2 separate regions of the Homo sapiens genome follow, and region 1 is linked to region 2. The links come from fine-mapping of genetic effects on gene expression. Tissue or cell type: aorta. Region 2 holds a variant in brackets; the other region holds the start of a gene. All regions are shown on one strand. Distances are between the middles of the regions.

Region 1 (8,109 bases), 110 kb before region 2:
ATTTCCAAATTTTATCTGTGCTCAGAAATGACATTAGGTGACATTACCTGAATTCTTCTATTGTCTTTTTGTAGAGACATTTGCCATAGGCACAATAATAGGGGTGATGGGGCAGGAGGAAGGGAAAAACAGAGTGAAAGAAGGAGTTCCAGAGTAACTACTCTTTAAGGCAGGGATCACAGATCCTAATGCCTACAGGAGAAAGTGAAATCAAGATCAGAGGTGGGCCAGACACAACCCAAGAGAAGATGGTAGGTCAATGGCAAACAGCAGATCATATGGTCTTTCTACCTCAATTCACACTTTTAAAAACATTCTGTGCACCTGTATATGTCTGTGGGCCCTATTCACCATACATTGCAAGCATGAAGCCCCTATTCTTAGGAGACTGCTTTCATTTTTATTTCAAAAACAGCACCAACTTCAAGAGTGCCTTCAAAGACCCAAATTTTAATGTGTTAAAGGGAGGGAAAAAAAGATAGAGCATATTAGAGCAGGAGGTGGCTGTTCCTCTGTCTCTTTGTCACAGCTATCACTAGACCCATCTCAAAGTTAAGAGATGGGATCCTGTTTGTAGTTCAACATTATGTTATCCACAGGTGGATGGATAAGACCTGCTTATGCCTTTGGATCATTTATATTTTACCAGACACTGTTCCATGTGCTCTACTTGTAGCTCCTCATTTTATCCTCACAATAACCCTATCATGATCCCCATTTCACAGATGAGACACGAGAGAGTTTAATCCACTGGCCTGTAGCTACACAGCTAGCAAGAGACATAGCTGGGATTGAAATCCAGGTTGTTTGGTTCTAAAACTCTTAACTATTATGCTCAACTCAGTCTTGGAGATGTTGTTCCCAATTTGAGGGGTCTATCAGTTTTAATTGCTTTCAGCTGCAGGTGACAGAAGTCCCAGCTACCAGTGTCTAGAACAAGTTTTGTTTTTGTTTTTTTTCCACAAAACAAGAAATCTGGAAGCAGGTGTCTACTGGCAGTAGGGCTGTACCTCAGCAATGTCAGCACCAACTTCTGCATGCTGGTCACAAGATGGTTAGTTCTTCACTGGGCATCATATATGAAATCAAGAAGCAAGAAAGGAAAAGGGGTGGCACCAGCCTTAAACCCTTTCCCACAAGGCCCCATCAGACTTCAACTTATACCTCATTACCAGAATGACATCACATGGCCATGTCTAGCTGCAAAGGAGTCTGGGAAAGCAAATATTTCTCTTTTCAAGCCCCAAGAGTGGAGGCAGGAACAGGAAAATCTCGTTGGGAACAGATGCTGGCTTAGCCAGCCAACAGTGTGGACCACAAGAGATTTGGTTTGGTTAAGAAAATACCAACAGAACTTCATCATACAGTGTATCACCCATGACATGAACCCAAGGAAAGTTAAATAGCAACAATTAAAAGTTTGCTGCAAAACCAAAATTGAATTATAGAACTCCTATTACCTTTTAAAATATCTGTTTCCATTCATTTCCAAAAATCTGAAATTATCTGTAAACATTTTCCCAATCAAATCTGTCTAGGTAGTGTGTAAAAATTACTTGACCTTCACACACCCAGATACTTTTAGTTATGCTATTGTTAGTTATGTTATTTCATAAAATGTTATCTCCTTATTTACAGTTGATAAATGAAATGATGATTTTCAATACAGTTTCAAAACTGGATTGAAATTTTGTTAGTTATTAGAAACTAGAAAGTTTCAGTGCTGAAAATACACAACGGGTTGTTTGTATTTATCATCTATTTTATTTTCCAGTTTGCATTGGCTTTTCTGGGTCTTTCTACAACTTTAATTGTAAATTTTTTCTTTTATATTTTTATCATGGCACTCAAACTCAGAAAACCTGTTAAGGCAACTACATAATGTGATCTAAAAATCCAGTTAACATATTGCTATGGAAACCAGGAAATAGAAACAGCACTCTAATCATTCCTTTAGACAACTATGGCTCTGTGTGTGTGTGTGTGTGTGTGTGTGTGTGTGTGTAAAACTTTTTAAATTCATTAATTTATTCATCTTTTATTGAAAGCTGTTACTGAACCCAAAATCTGTAATTGATCTGTCCATAAATAGGCCCAGTGCCTTATTACCAGTAAATTAGTGTTTTTTAATGAGCTATAGTCATTGATAAATTATGCCATGCCGTATCAGGAAATCTCCAGTCAGGCCGCGTTGTTTATTTAGCCTGCTGAGGCCTCTTGGTATGGTGTGAAGGACACCTGACTGGGCTGAAAGCTAAGTTCTAACTTTGCCCCTCTTACTAACCAGCTATGTGACTCTCCTGGGAACTTTTAGGGACTCAGTTTCTTTACCTGCAAAATGGTTCAATGCAAGACTTTAGTAACGTAATGGGAACTTTCCTTTTCCATAAAACTGGGGAATCAAGAGGTAATCTCTTTTGAGGACTGAAATCACTCTTATGTAACCTCTGGTTACATTATCATTTCCAAGTGCCTGGCACTTGGGAAATGATAACTATTCTTACTACATTTTTCTATGTTTCATTCTGTAGTAAATAAGAACTGAACCTGCATAGTAACTGTTATTTTAACCCATGACTTTCAATAACGAAGATATCTATGTCTCATTATCTATTGCCATGATTGAACAAGTTGGTATGAGAGCCGGAACGAACTCAAGTTCTAACCGGCAATGCCCGTTCCTTAGATCCTATTACCTTTGAGTGTTCATTTACTCTTGTAGGTGCCAATTTTTATAGCGAAATACAAAGTTATCCCAACACAATTACTCCTAATAGAGTTCACCGAGGCCCCAAAAGCTCTTTTTTAAAAATCATCATAAGATTTCAACATTCAAGAATTAAACTTTTGTTCTGTTGTGCTTATTCATCGCTATTTGCCCAGTTATTTAATCAGCCTGCTTCCGGCTATGGAAAAAAAAAAAAAGAAAAAAAGAAATGGAAGTCTCCTCAGGGTTAAACTCCTCTGTTGTTCTTCCTTGCAGAAATTTGAGTTATTATAGTAGAGGATAATCGTTGCATAATGAAATCATTGGGACAATTCGTCCATCCACTTCTACCTCCGCCTCTAACAATGAACTCCTTGTTTCTGCGGTGCCCAAATCTCTCTAAACCCGGGTGGGCGCGGGGCGGTTAGCGGAGACGTGGGAGAGGCCGAGAGCAAAGCTCGCGCCCTTCCCGGGGTCAGCGAGCGGGGTGCCAGGAGGGTGCGCGCCCTGCATCTGAGCCCGGGGTGACACTCGCCTCCCAAGCGCCAGGAGGGGGAGACTCGGTCCCGCTTATCTCCGGCTGTGCTAACTTCAGACTGCCTGAGCTGGGGGAGGAGAGCGCGCAGCCAGGGCGAGAAAACTTCTCCACCTAGAAAGTTTCACCTTGTCGTGGGCGGGGCAGAGGCGGGAGGAAACGCGACCCCCGCGGGGCCAGGCGCGGCGCGGACGGCAGGAAGGGCGGGGGCCGATTTCCCTCTGGGTGGTGCCAGTCCCCACCTCAGCGGTCCTCGGAACCCGCGGACTAGGGGACGGACAGCACGCGAGGCAGACAGACACGTGCTGGGGCGGGCAGGCGAGCGCCTCAGTCTGGTCGCCTGGCGGTGCCTCCGGCCCCAACGCGCCCGGGCCGCCGCGGGCCGCGCGCGCCGATGCCCGGCTGAGTCACTGGCAGGGCAGCGCGCGTGTGGGAAGGGGCGGAGGGAGTGCGGCCGGCGGGCGGGCGGGGCGCTGGGCTCAGCCCGGCCGCAGGTGACCCGGAGGCCCTCGCCGCCCGCGGCGCCCCGAGCGCTTTGTGAGCAGATGCGGAGCCGAGTGGAGGGCGCGAGCCAGATGCGGGGCGACAGCTGACTTGCTGAGAGGAGGCGGGGAGGCGCGGAGCGCGCGTGTGGTCCTTGCGCCGCTGACTTCTCCACTGGTTCCTGGGCACCGAAAGGTAAAATTGCAGCCCCTTTCAGATCCAGTACCCAATCCCTCGCCTCAGGGGTTCTGCTTTCTTTGTTCCCCTAAGAGACCTGACTGCTGTTCCAGGGGGCAAAACCACGTAGGTGGGCTAGAGTTTAGGGGCTTCGGAAACTGAAGAGACGTGGCCACGGCGAGGACGAAACTAGAATGGGGCTTGTCTTTTTAGGGGGTTGCTTCTGATGGCCACCTGTATGACTTAGGAGGGAGAGGGGCGCTGGGACAGTGGGTGATGTGTGACTGTTACGGCCCAGCAAGTTTTAAAGCTGGGATCTGACTCAGCCCTTACAAAAGGGATCCGGTCATCCTCGTCCCACCGTGATGCAGCTGGCAAGGTTTGAGCCGAGCTGTTTCCTTGTTCCCAGCCTTGCTTTATCTGTGTTATGTTGGGGTCCTTCCAAGGGGCAGGTGTTTCTGTGAAAGTCTGAATTCATTTCTGGCAATCACGCGGGGCTTGTGATCCATCAATTTTCCATCGTACCTTATCTCTTTCTGGGGCTTGTGGTGGACATCTATCTTATTAGGTGAAATAGATTATAACCAGAGGCTGAGCGATGTGGCCAGTCGTAGTGCTGACCCGATAATTAAAGCACCAGTGAAAGTACTTTCCCTGACTATTGTCAATGCAGAATTTACTCCGAAGTACGGTTTCCCATTCATATCTTTCATGTTTTAAAAGAGCCATTTGCTAATTTGGCAGTTGGAGAGGGCTCCAATGGCTCACGCATGAATAGTTGCCCAGTGTATTTTACCTTATCACAGTTTTATGTTCAAAGGAGCCCTCGGGCAGAATGAAATATTGTCAACTCTCTTAGGCAAAATAATCAAGATACTTTAATTGCTATGTTAAGATGGTCCATGAATGTGAGAGGATTGTAAGAACTGACGTTGGAGGCAATATAGACTATCTGGACCCTCTCTTGAATTTTAAGAAGACTGTTCACATTCTGTAGCTTTGGGTGGGGGTTTATTCTGTCGCTTTCATCAGCCAGACACATGCACATTGCCATGCAAATGGATTCAGAAAAACATTATATTCCCTTACAGCTAAACTATTATAGCTGACTAATGAATTTTTTCTGCATGAAGATGATCTGAAAATGATGTACATCATGTTTCTCTGTGCTACAGGGACATAAATTGCATTTTTATGTAAACAGTGTAAGTGGTGCTTGGATTATTTACAGGTACATAGCTTTCCTTCCTTGATCTAAGCTAATTGAGCTTTGTTTTGAACGTGTAAACTTCCATAATGGAACATAAGTGAGGTACTTTGGTTCCTATCATTTGCAAGTCTGTGGTGTATTCAATGTTCATTCTTTTTGAACTGCTGAATAACAGAGGGAAAATTTACATCATTCATAAGAAATTTTGGTAGTACAAAAATGTGTCTGATAGCCTATAAAATGTACTGCTGTTTTAAAAATTCTATTCCGTTTTCAAACTTAATGGTGTATAAGCTATAGTTATTAACTTAAATATATTTTGCTTTTAACATGATGGAATTTGTGGCATATAGAAGACAGTCTGCCGACTACTGCTTTTTCAAAATTGCTTTGTTCTTGATACATGGCAGTAGGGGTTTACATTAGATGTATACTACATGCTTTCAAAATTAGTTGATGGAGTTTATCTTCATGATAAAAAATGTACCAGATTAATCATAGCCAGTCAATACGAAAGCTCATAACTAATATTTTCACTACTTTTAAACCTATAATAGAGAAAAATGACCCTTTGCTAAGCAGGAGAAATACCCATATTTTATAAATTCCTTTTAAGACTATGTAAGTATATGCCTTGCATTAATCTTGAAATCTTTAAAAAAAAATTGTCTTAATGAGGGCTAGACTAAGAAATACATTTCAAAAATCAATTTCCTTAGCTGTTTTTAAAATAGTGTTTGAAGTAGCATTAGTCATATTATCCTTCTGCAGATCTACATAATAGTCTCAAATTAACTTTTTCTCAAATGTGGTCATCTCAAAACAACGTGAATAACTCAGAGGAGCTAACATCCTCTAACTGGCTTATTTTCTCCAAGTGGCTGCACCAAAGACATGGCAACACCCCCATGGTGAGCACAGTTCCTCACACATTCAGATTACCTCCCATTTCTCTGTCCTCTTCCTCCTCAACCCTTTCCCTTGGTTTGGTCAGAGCTGCTTTCAAGGCCTTCCGTGCCCCCATTTCTCCAGCCCAGTTTGCTCGTTTCTTCTTTAGGCATTAGGCTTAGTGATTCTCGCCAGAGCCATCTACGCTTTCTTTTCCGTGGTCTAAATCCCTAAGATTTCCTTGGTCTGCTGTGTTTATTCATAGGATACTCAATTTCCTCATTGTGCCCTCTTAAGGGGAGAAAATGTATGTAGAAACTCAAGTGTCCGGAAGTGAGCCTTCTTTTCCTGGCTGGTGTATGCTGAAACTAGTGTTTTTGACACCAAGCCCTTAGGGCAGAGTTTCTTCATGGGTTTTGCTCAGTGCAAAATAAATAGTCACTTCTCAGTAATAAATGATAGATACACTGACTAATGTTAGTTCAGAATCACTTTGATGATGTGTTCTCAACTGACACTGAGTTGCTGCTAGATCCACATTTGCCTGACCAAAAATAGCTAGGACCTATAGGTAGAGTATCATATGTGCTAGGTACTACAGCATTTTCTTTAAAAGAAAGAAATGGAATCTGCCCTTGAGAAGTTTATGATCTAGATACACAGACAAATATCACATATTAAATGAACACAAATTCATAATTATTAAGAGGACATCACATGAGAAACGCTTTCAAAATCATCCTATTTGCTATGAAATAATAGAATTTTTTTTTAAAAATCAAAGTTTGGAACTTAAAAACCTTAACATTTTCAAGCTGTTTCTGCATACATCACCTTTCTGATACCAAAACGACCTTACAAGATAGGCAAGTCTGATAACATCTTAACATTCTTATGTTATAGACAAGGAAACTGAGCTTGAGACTAGCTCCATGCTATTTCAATAGCACCATACCACCTTTCCTCAGCCATCAACTATTGGAAACATTTTCCATGGAGGCATCATTAGGGATGCTTAAGATAGTGGTAAATGATGAATATAACATATCTAGTCCCTGGAGTTTTTGTCACCTTCTCTTTCTCCAGTTCTCTCTCTCTTTTTTTTTTTTAATTTCTTTTCTTTTCTTTTTTTCTTTTCTTTGTAGTGAGACATACCGAGAAAAGGTTTCATTCATATGTGTGGGGCATTCTGCTCCTGTTATCAGATTAAGAGCCGTGAATAATTTTGTAATCTATCCTTCTATCAGAAAGCCCATTCTCAGATATCTTTTCAGCTGTGTTAAACAGGTTAGTATATTCCGCTTGGGATTTGTTTCAATAAAAACATCCAGTAAAATCTGACTACTTTGCTTTTCATGGGACAAAATGAAAAAAGTGCTTTTATAAGCTGTAAAACTTAATTGAGAGAAAAAATCACGTGTGGCATTTGTAGCAGGAGGTATGAGCTCAGTGAAATAAAAAAGTTAACTTTGTAATCACATACCCAGGTACACATATTTCTCTCTGTGATTGCATAAATGTGTGCAAGTATGTTTATGTAGGTTACTCCCATTGATTTTAATTTCTATAATAAATTATGTAGCTATAGGGCCCACAGGCGATTATATAATGGGCAATAGAATTTGAAAATGTATCTCTCCTAATATAATTAAGGATAGCAATTATGAAATGTGCTTAGAGAATCACAAGTTATCGTGAAAGCCAGGTTCCTGTACTCCAAGAATGTGAATGAGGATTTAGTCATTCATTCAGGACAATTTTTTGACAACCTACGAGGCATAGTTCTAAAATCTGGCATTTCCACAGAGTATAAAACAGATGAAAACCTCTAACCTCATGACACTCTGTTCTATTGAGTTGGCAAACAATAAAGAAATACATAACTGAAATGTGTTGTATGTCAGGTGATGATAATAGCTTCAAGGTAGAATAAAATGGAAAAGAGAATAGTGACTGTCAAGGATAAGAGAGAGTGGGATGGTGATTGAAAAACTCAATAGTGAGGTCAGGGAAGGCTTGTCTTCAAAGGTGGGCTTTGGGCTAGAATCTGAAGGAGATAAGGAAGTGAGCCAGGCGCATATGAGGAGCACTTCTCAGGAGTGCTATTCT
Region 2 (8,109 bases):
TGGATTTTTGTGAGACGAGGCAATTGCTCAACTACCTTTGCTGCTACCACTGCTTCCATTCTTAAGGACATAGTATATTCAAAAATAAACCATAAGCATGGCTTTTTGCTATTGATAAAGAGAGAAATGTCTAAGGAAATGAGGGTAAAAAGCTTTCAAAATTAATACTTAGTCTACTTAAATGAAAATCTGTAAACATCTAATGAAATGCTTGTATATATAACTTAGTATCTTTTCCCAATTTATTATCATTTTTATCAAACTAATTCCATTATAAAAGCTCTTCCTGTTTCAGTCCCCATTAAATGAGGTTTTACTGTTGTTCTTTAATAATTTTCCTTCATCTTACAGATCAGTTTCCTAATTCATCTCAGAACGGTTCATGCCGACAAGTGCAGTATCCTCTGACAGACATGTCCCCCATCCTAACTAGTGGGGACTCTGATATATCCAGTCCATTACTGCAAAATACTGTCCACATTGACCTCAGTGCTCTAAATCCAGAGCTGGTCCAGGCAGTGCAGCATGTAGTGATTGGGCCCAGTAGCCTGATTGTGCATTTCAATGAAGTCATAGGAAGAGGTAAGTATTTCCACTCAGCTTTTTGTTAAATACGATTTTCCAGTAAGCATTTTATCTTTGGCCTTTGCAGATTAGGAACTTAGACAATGGTGAAAGCAACTGACAGAGCAGTGATAACAAGTGTACTTGATTTCTGTTCTATAGAAATGTAGCCCTGTAAATCATATCCGTGGGGATTTGCCCTTGTGCATGGAAGCAATTGGATAATCCCCCAAATATATTAGAACTAAATCACAATTCGTCCTCGTCCTGTGTGTACTAGCAATTATAGTTTCTTCAAAGGTGCCATTTACTTTCTTCTAAAACTCAGGGCCAGGCGCAGTGGCTCACACGTGTAATCCCAGCACTTTGGGAGGCCGAGGCAGGTGGATCACCTGAGGTCAGGAGTTCAAAACCATCCTGGCCAACATGGCAAAACCCCGTCTCTACTAAAAAAATACAAAAATTAGCCAGGCGTGGTGGCGGGTGCCTTTAATCCCAACTACTGGGGAGGCTGAAGCAAGGAGAATTGCTTGAACCCAGGAGGTGGAAGTTGCAGTGAGCCAAGGTTGTGCCACAGCACTCCAGCCTGGGCAGCAGAGCGAGACTCCATGTCAAAAAAATAAATACTTATAAATAAATAAATATCACTCCTTTAATTTTGAGTATTTTTATTCAATCTCTCTCCAGTCTTTCTTTACCCTGAGAACAGTGACAAACTCTATGAAGCCTGGTTTATAGCAGTTTGTACACTGCTGGACAGCATCAGAAGACAGAGAATTTATAGCATTCTCCTGATCTAAAGCAACATATATCATCTCTACAATGCACTCCAATTTCTTTATACAAAGATAAATGAATATTTGTAATAAGCTAGCCAAAGCAGCAATAACAGCTAGCATAAACAGTATTTGTGGAAATATTTAGCAGGAAAAGAAACCAATCAAAAACCGGGAAATGAACTTCATTCTTCTTGTTGTTTTTTTTTTTCTAAAAAGCTTTTACCCTTAATACTAAATGGCCTCTGATCCCTTTTATTCTATATGTGCTGCAAGAGGTTGTACAGGCATCTGCCAGTGTGATACAAGAGAAGCTGATGGCGTGATTTCCCTTATATGAACACAAGGCCTTCTCACTTTCCTGTGGTAGCATCCACACATTCTTCTGTCAAACACCCCAGAGCGTAATCCTTTGTGTGCTCCTTCTTCCCCAAGAGTGGCTTCACTGTTAACAAACATCTTTCCATTTCTCTTCAGAGTAATATATAGTTCTGTCATAGGCCTATAAATCCCAGTAATTGCATCAATTTTAGAGTGTGTGGACTCACTAATTGTGTTCTAATTCTACACATTTGGAAAACTAGAATTTTTTATCATGAAAGGTACTAAAATGGCAATTATTTCTCTTTTGAAGTTATAATCATTAACAGCTCTATAAATATTAGCTACTATGTATTTATATGTTTTTCTGCAGGAGAATAGGAGCACTCAAAAGCATAAGTTTTATTTTATTCTTCTTTGCATTAGTAGAGGGCAGCCTAATGCCTGACACTCACATACTAGGCACTCATGGTGTCTTGGCCAGCTGGATGAATTAATTAGTGAATGACTTACACAGCTATCAGACATTTGGCACCTCTGGGGGAAATTACTGCCACTGGATAAAAGGCTACCATTGGGAAAATGATGTGGTTAAAGCCAGAGAGAACTGGATGAAGTGAGTCAGGGTGAATTTGCTTCATCTGGGCAACTGCCTTTCAGTTTCTGCCAACCTGGATTACGTATTAACCAGTGACTAATGGGGAAATCCTTATTCTATAATACTAATCCTATTTTTAATGGTAACATTTTTATTTCATTTCAGCTTATTAGAATATAGAGAACTTATTTTATTATAGTTCTTCATGTGGGTTAACTTTATTTTCATATTTTAAAATACTATGTCATCCTTTAAAAAAATTTATTTGATGAGGCCGATGTTACTCACCTTTTCAGTGGTTCCACTGTGGTTGAATATTTTATTAGGTTAGGCTTTAATATGAGTCATATCATCTACAACTTATTCATGAATTAAATAATCACATTGCTTATATCCTTGGGTGAAATGTGTTGCATCTACATATATATTTACAAACACACCTACGTACCTATAGTGGTATTGTTAAAAGTATTTTTTAAATGTACTCTTTTGCTGTATAGAAAGAAGAAAGAATAAAATGAAGCTCATAAAGGGTTTGATAAATAATTATTTCATAATTAAATGTTACGCAGTGCTAACCAAGTTCTTTCTTTTGCACAGGGCATTTTGGTTGTGTATATCATGGGACTTTGTTGGACAATGATGGCAAGAAAATTCACTGTGCTGTGAAATCCTTGAACAGTAAGTGGCATTTTATTTAACCATGGAGTATACTTTTGTGGTTTGCAACCTAATAAATAGCTTATAATAAAACGTTGATTTACACTTTCCCCTTGTGGAAAAATCAGCTACCACTGAAATTATGGGCCTAATCCTGAAAATTTGTTTTGTTCTAGACTTTTATTGAACTACTTCCCCTGAAATGATCCCTCAGAGCCCTCATTAGTAAGGGGGTAGGAGAAATGAGGTTCTTGGATGAACTGAGTATCATTTAACTATAACTATGTTTGGTTTATAATATTTGTTTTGCAAGTGACATTTCTGGAAACTATTGGAAGCATGTTG[G/C]CACCTACAGTAGTAATGACTCATTTTACCCAGAGGCATTACTATAATTATTTTTTAACCACAACTTCCATTAAAAAGATAAAAAATGAAATAAGACAAACAGGAGAAAACTACGCTGGCCAAAAATTGAAAAATCATAAGTATGGTAATACCTCATTTATCCACATTTTTGGAGAGTGAGGCATTCCACATACATGAACTTCCTAAATAAATGAAACCTACCCCTTTTTAATGCTGGAACATTACTTAAAATTTTAGCTGTTATTGAGAAAATCTTTTTAAGATGAAATGCATACTCTGTTTAAGGGAATGCTTCCAAATACAAACTAAGTCTTTATTGGTGACCCCAAGCCATAATTACAGCCATAAATTACTATATTACACAAACAGTGTACTCCACATACATAGTGTTCCTGGCTCCGCCTGTGTTGACAGGTCTCACATGCTTGCGTTTTCTACTCCCATTTCTCATTTTCTGCTTGCAAATTGCAGCAGCCTGAAAAATGTTAACCAGCTCTACTACAAACTTTATATGGGACTTAATAAGCTTTAAGTGCACAAATGAAAGATTTTCCTGCAAGATACTTTACTGTCACAATTATTTCAGTCTTTTTAAAATATAAATCAACATGCTAAGTAGTGTTCTACATGGTTAATTTTGTTGGAAGTCTGACCATGAGGGAAATAAATGGACAGTCTTTATGAAACCTAAGTATAACCTTTGCACTAAGTTTATAGGAGACAAACTGGTGGCTGGTTGGACTCTATCTTGCAAAAGTGGGCATAGGTGGTGACTGGAAGGCACAGTGCACGGTGGCATCATTCACTCAGATGTGATGTAAAAAGAACACTCTGCAGTCAAACCCTCAGGACAAGATGCTAACTGTGTGGTTTACCATTTCATTGCTCTTCCTATCTAAATTTGACAAAAGTATTCACTGTTCCATAATGAAGTTAATGTCTCCACCACTGGATTTCTCAGGAATCACTGACATAGGAGAAGTTTCCCAATTTCTGACCGAGGGAATCATCATGAAAGATTTTAGTCATCCCAATGTCCTCTCGCTCCTGGGAATCTGCCTGCGAAGTGAAGGGTCTCCGCTGGTGGTCCTACCATACATGAAACATGGAGATCTTCGAAATTTCATTCGAAATGAGACTCATGTAAGTTGACTGCCAAGCTTACTAACTGGCAAACTAGCTGTAAGCCAGCCATCCCTTCAAAATAGGCCTGCTCTGAGTCTTTAAAAAGCTAGTAGCCAAAGATGCACATTTAAAATGTTAGCATCATTCAAATGCACCTCAAAGTCTTCTATCCTGGTGGGAAATAGTGACACCTGGAAGGGTTTCCTGGAGCAATGATTCTTACTTGCTCTGCAAGCAACCTTGCTCTACCTTCCCTCTGATAGGGACATTTAGTCATCTTTGCATGTCTACTATGTGCCAGAAACTGTGCACAGCACAGGAGAAGTGGAAGCAGAGCAAGCCTCAGCCCATATGGAATGTTAACTCTACAAGGCATTGAAAAATTAACTCCAGATGCGTTCCTTGCTGTTCCTTGTCCTTGCCATCCACTCTCACACCTCAGGAACTTTGCACTTGTGCTCCCTCAGCCTGGAACACTCTCCCCGCAAATAGCCACGTATCTCACTTCCTCATCTTCTTCAGCTTTTGGCCGTAATGCCATCTTCAACATAAGCCTTCCCTAATCTGTTTAAAATTGCAACTGACCACCCACCCTCATGGCTTCAGACTCCTCTTCCCTGCTCTATTTTCCCCCATCACACTTAACTGTCATCTGATACATGCATGAAGCTGCCTGAAGCTGCCCAATACTATGGCCATGAGCCACATGTAAAAGGAGGCTAGTTCGAACTGAAATGTGCTGTACGGTGTAGAATACATCCCAGATTCTGAATACTTAGTATTAAAAAAAAAAGAAGGTGAAATATCTCACTAGTAGTTGTTTATATTGATTACATGCTGAAATATTTTGGATTTTGGGGGTTGAAAAATACATTGTGAAAATTAATTTCACCTGTTTCTTTTTACTTTTGAGTATGGCTACTAGAAAATTTTATATTACATGTGTGTCTTGCTTTATATTTCTATTGAATAGCACTGTAGTAGATAATAAACAAATAAACAATAGCTATATAGATGTATATGTATGCATATATATGTACACACACCCTCATCCCATTAGAATGGAAGCTCATGAGGGTAGGATTTTTGTGTATTTTGTTCACTGCTGTGGCTCCAACACCTAAAACAGTGTTTAGCACATAGACTCGCAGTAAATAATTGTTGAATGAATCAGCTAAGGGTTACAAAAAAAGGTTCTTAGCCTCTTGCAAGTGGTAGATTTTTTTCTTGACATTTATGCCAGGACCTAAAAGTCACCAGGCCAGGACCAGGGAGGGTGGGAATAAGAATCTCAAGAACTGAATTCATAGAAGGCCTCAAGCTCCGTCTCGGTTCCTGCTCTCCAAGTCTCTGTGGGAGGTAATGAAGTTGATCAAAAGCAACTTTATAAATATGGGGTCAAATTATCAGAGAAAATAAGCTCTAGGAGAGTAATGAGATATTACTCAGCCAAAAGAATAAAACATTCCCTGGCAGTGAACTTTTGCAGATAAGGCGAATTGACCTTACAAAGCACACAGCTGCCCTGACAGACCCCACTTTCCCACTTCAACTTTTGTTATTACCCTGATGGATTAATGTGGCTGGAGGTGCTACCTTCTCTAGGGTACTGTTACCCCAGGATTAAAGCATGATAGAGATTTCCTGTTATCCAGAACGGAATAGTGCCATGGCCTTTTTTAATCCAAGGAGCTGATACTGAGAGCAACCACAAACCCAGATGTGTCTTAAAGAGAAACCTAAAACCAGGAACTGGCCTTTCTCTATGCTGTGTGCATTGAGTGGGGCTACAGCCCTTTTGCAGGGTCCCCACTGACTACATCTTGCACTGACAAACTCCTCAGTGACTGTTGAAGGGGAATACCCCATTCCTGATTGCCAGCCAGTGACATCACCAGACTTGACAGCTGAGTGGTTTGGGGTGATTTCTTTCTGAGCCTCCTCTATTCACTGTGCTTCTGATGTTCTAACATCTTGGGCCTTACTAACCCTGGAGGAACTGTCCCTCCCAAGGCTAGCTAATTCCTGCAAATAGTAAACAGCTTGCCTTCAAAGCATACCTGTCATGTGCAAACCAACCAATCCAGAGCCCTTATCTAACCTCCTCCTTTATCAGGCTCTTACACTTTGGGCTACTATCCACCTGCCCTAATCACCCCAGGGCCCAGTTCCAGACAACTAGAACTATCCTCGGAGCCTGCTGAAATACTCCAGATTGGCCAGCTCCAAACCTGCTTACCCTGCCTTACCAGTTTCTTCCCAGGGAAACTGCAATGAAGGCTCTTGCTCATGTTTTTCCCCTCTCTCTCTCTGCCTCTAGAGCCCAGGGCTTCCCCCATGTGACCCTGCATGACAGGGTGTGCCTCCTCCTCTTGCAAACTGTGAATAGCAAACTATCTTTTCAATGGCAGTTGTCTCCTGTTCTGTTGGCCTCATCATACCTGGAAAATAATAAAACTACATTTTAAAACACCTCCATTTTCCCATCTGGAAAATGGAGCCTGTAACACCTGCCTGACAGAAGTGTAGAAGTAGCTGTAATTTATGAAAACAATTAGCCTGGTGTGTTGCATACAATAAATACTTAACAAATGGTTGATCTGTCAATGGGGCACACTTTTTGTTGTTGTTGTTTTGTTTTTTGTTTTTGGAGACAAGGTCTCTGTCACCCAGGCTGGAGTGCAGTGGCACAGTCATAGTGCACTGCAGTATCCAACTCCTGGGCTCAAGCAATCCTCCTTCCTCAGACTCCTAAGCAGCTGGGACTATAGGTGCACACCACCACACCAGGCTAATTTTTTTGTGGGCGGTGGATGGGAGTAAAGACAGGATCTCACTGTGTTGCCCAGGCTGATCTCAAACTCCTGGCCTCAAGCCATCCTCTCGCCTTGGCCTCTCAAAGTTCTGGGATTACAGGCTTGAGCCATTAAGACCAAACTAATTTTTGAGACAAGATAATTTTTTATAAATAAATATTTCAGAATTCTAAGGTCAAAATTAGAACAGTAGATGCTTAGTTTATGCTTTTCTAACTCTCTTTGACTGCAGAATCCAACTGTAAAAGATCTTATTGGCTTTGGTCTTCAAGTAGCCAAAGGCATGAAATATCTTGCAAGCAAAAAGTTTGTCCACAGAGACTTGGCTGCAAGAAACTGTATGTAAGTATCAGAATCTCTGTGCCACAATCCAAATTAAGTGACAAGGAGGAATCTGTTTCCCACTGTTCAATGCTAGTTAAGCTGTTTTCTCTTCTTATGCAAAAGTCCTTTATTTCTGTTACAATCTTAAATCGATGTGTAAGCCCTGGGGATGTGGGTGGGACTTTCAGACTTTATCCAACAGAGAATTTAAAAGGATTCTCCATAGGGGGTCTTAAACAGCTGTTGTGTACTTTTGCTTTTCTCAGTCCTTCCCTCCAGTAGCTCTCAATGTTGTGGTTTCACACTGCATTAGTGTTGGGGAGGGAGAATTTGATCTTCAGCATTTGACAGTGAAAAGGAGAGGGCTGGGAACACAAATACCAACATATTGCAACTTCCCAAGAGTGGATTTGAAGCCAGCCTGCAGAAGCCCTACCAAAAATGGTATTTGGCAATGAATATACAAAGAACTTTATTTGTGTCTGGCTGCCTGGCTATGTAATACAACAGTCAACAGTTTGTAATTGAGTTCATGTTTTCCCTTGCATAGCACTGATTC

Direction of the effects. Positions count from the first base shown, and alleles are read on the strand shown. Sizes are in standard deviations (SD) of each study's normalised expression.
In carriers of allele G in region 2, the expression in aorta of the gene that starts at base 3,539 in region 1 tends to be higher than with C alone (moderate effect, 0.65 SD a copy in GTEx).

The links. PIP is the estimated chance that this variant, and not a neighbour inherited with it, causes the effect.
Region 1: it holds the start of MET, and the variant in region 2 is fine-mapped to the expression of MET in aorta (GTEx, PIP above 0.99). The same link has a PIP of 0.9 or more in tibial artery.

What each region holds. Positions count from the first base shown.
Region 1 is chr7:116,668,658-116,676,766 of GRCh38, forward strand. It overlaps MET (MET proto-oncogene, receptor tyrosine kinase), which reads left to right and starts at 3,539. Exons shown (of 21, transcript NM_000245.4): 1 at 3,539-3,920. The region is part of intron 1 of COMETT (cytosolic oncogenic antisense to MET transcript); the gene reads right to left. RefSeq lists silencers at 3,147-3,196, 3,327-3,456, 3,517-3,706.
Region 2 is chr7:116,774,530-116,782,638 of GRCh38, forward strand. It overlaps MET (MET proto-oncogene, receptor tyrosine kinase), which reads left to right. Exons shown (of 21, transcript NM_000245.4): 15 at 352-582; 16 at 2,860-2,940; 17 at 4,247-4,428; 18 at 7,459-7,568. Among named protein-coding and RNA genes, the nearest start is that of CAPZA2, 84 kb to the right of the region's middle. RefSeq lists enhancers at 1,498-2,697, 6,249-7,177, 7,178-8,105. The variant G/C (reference allele first, on the strand shown) is at 3,265.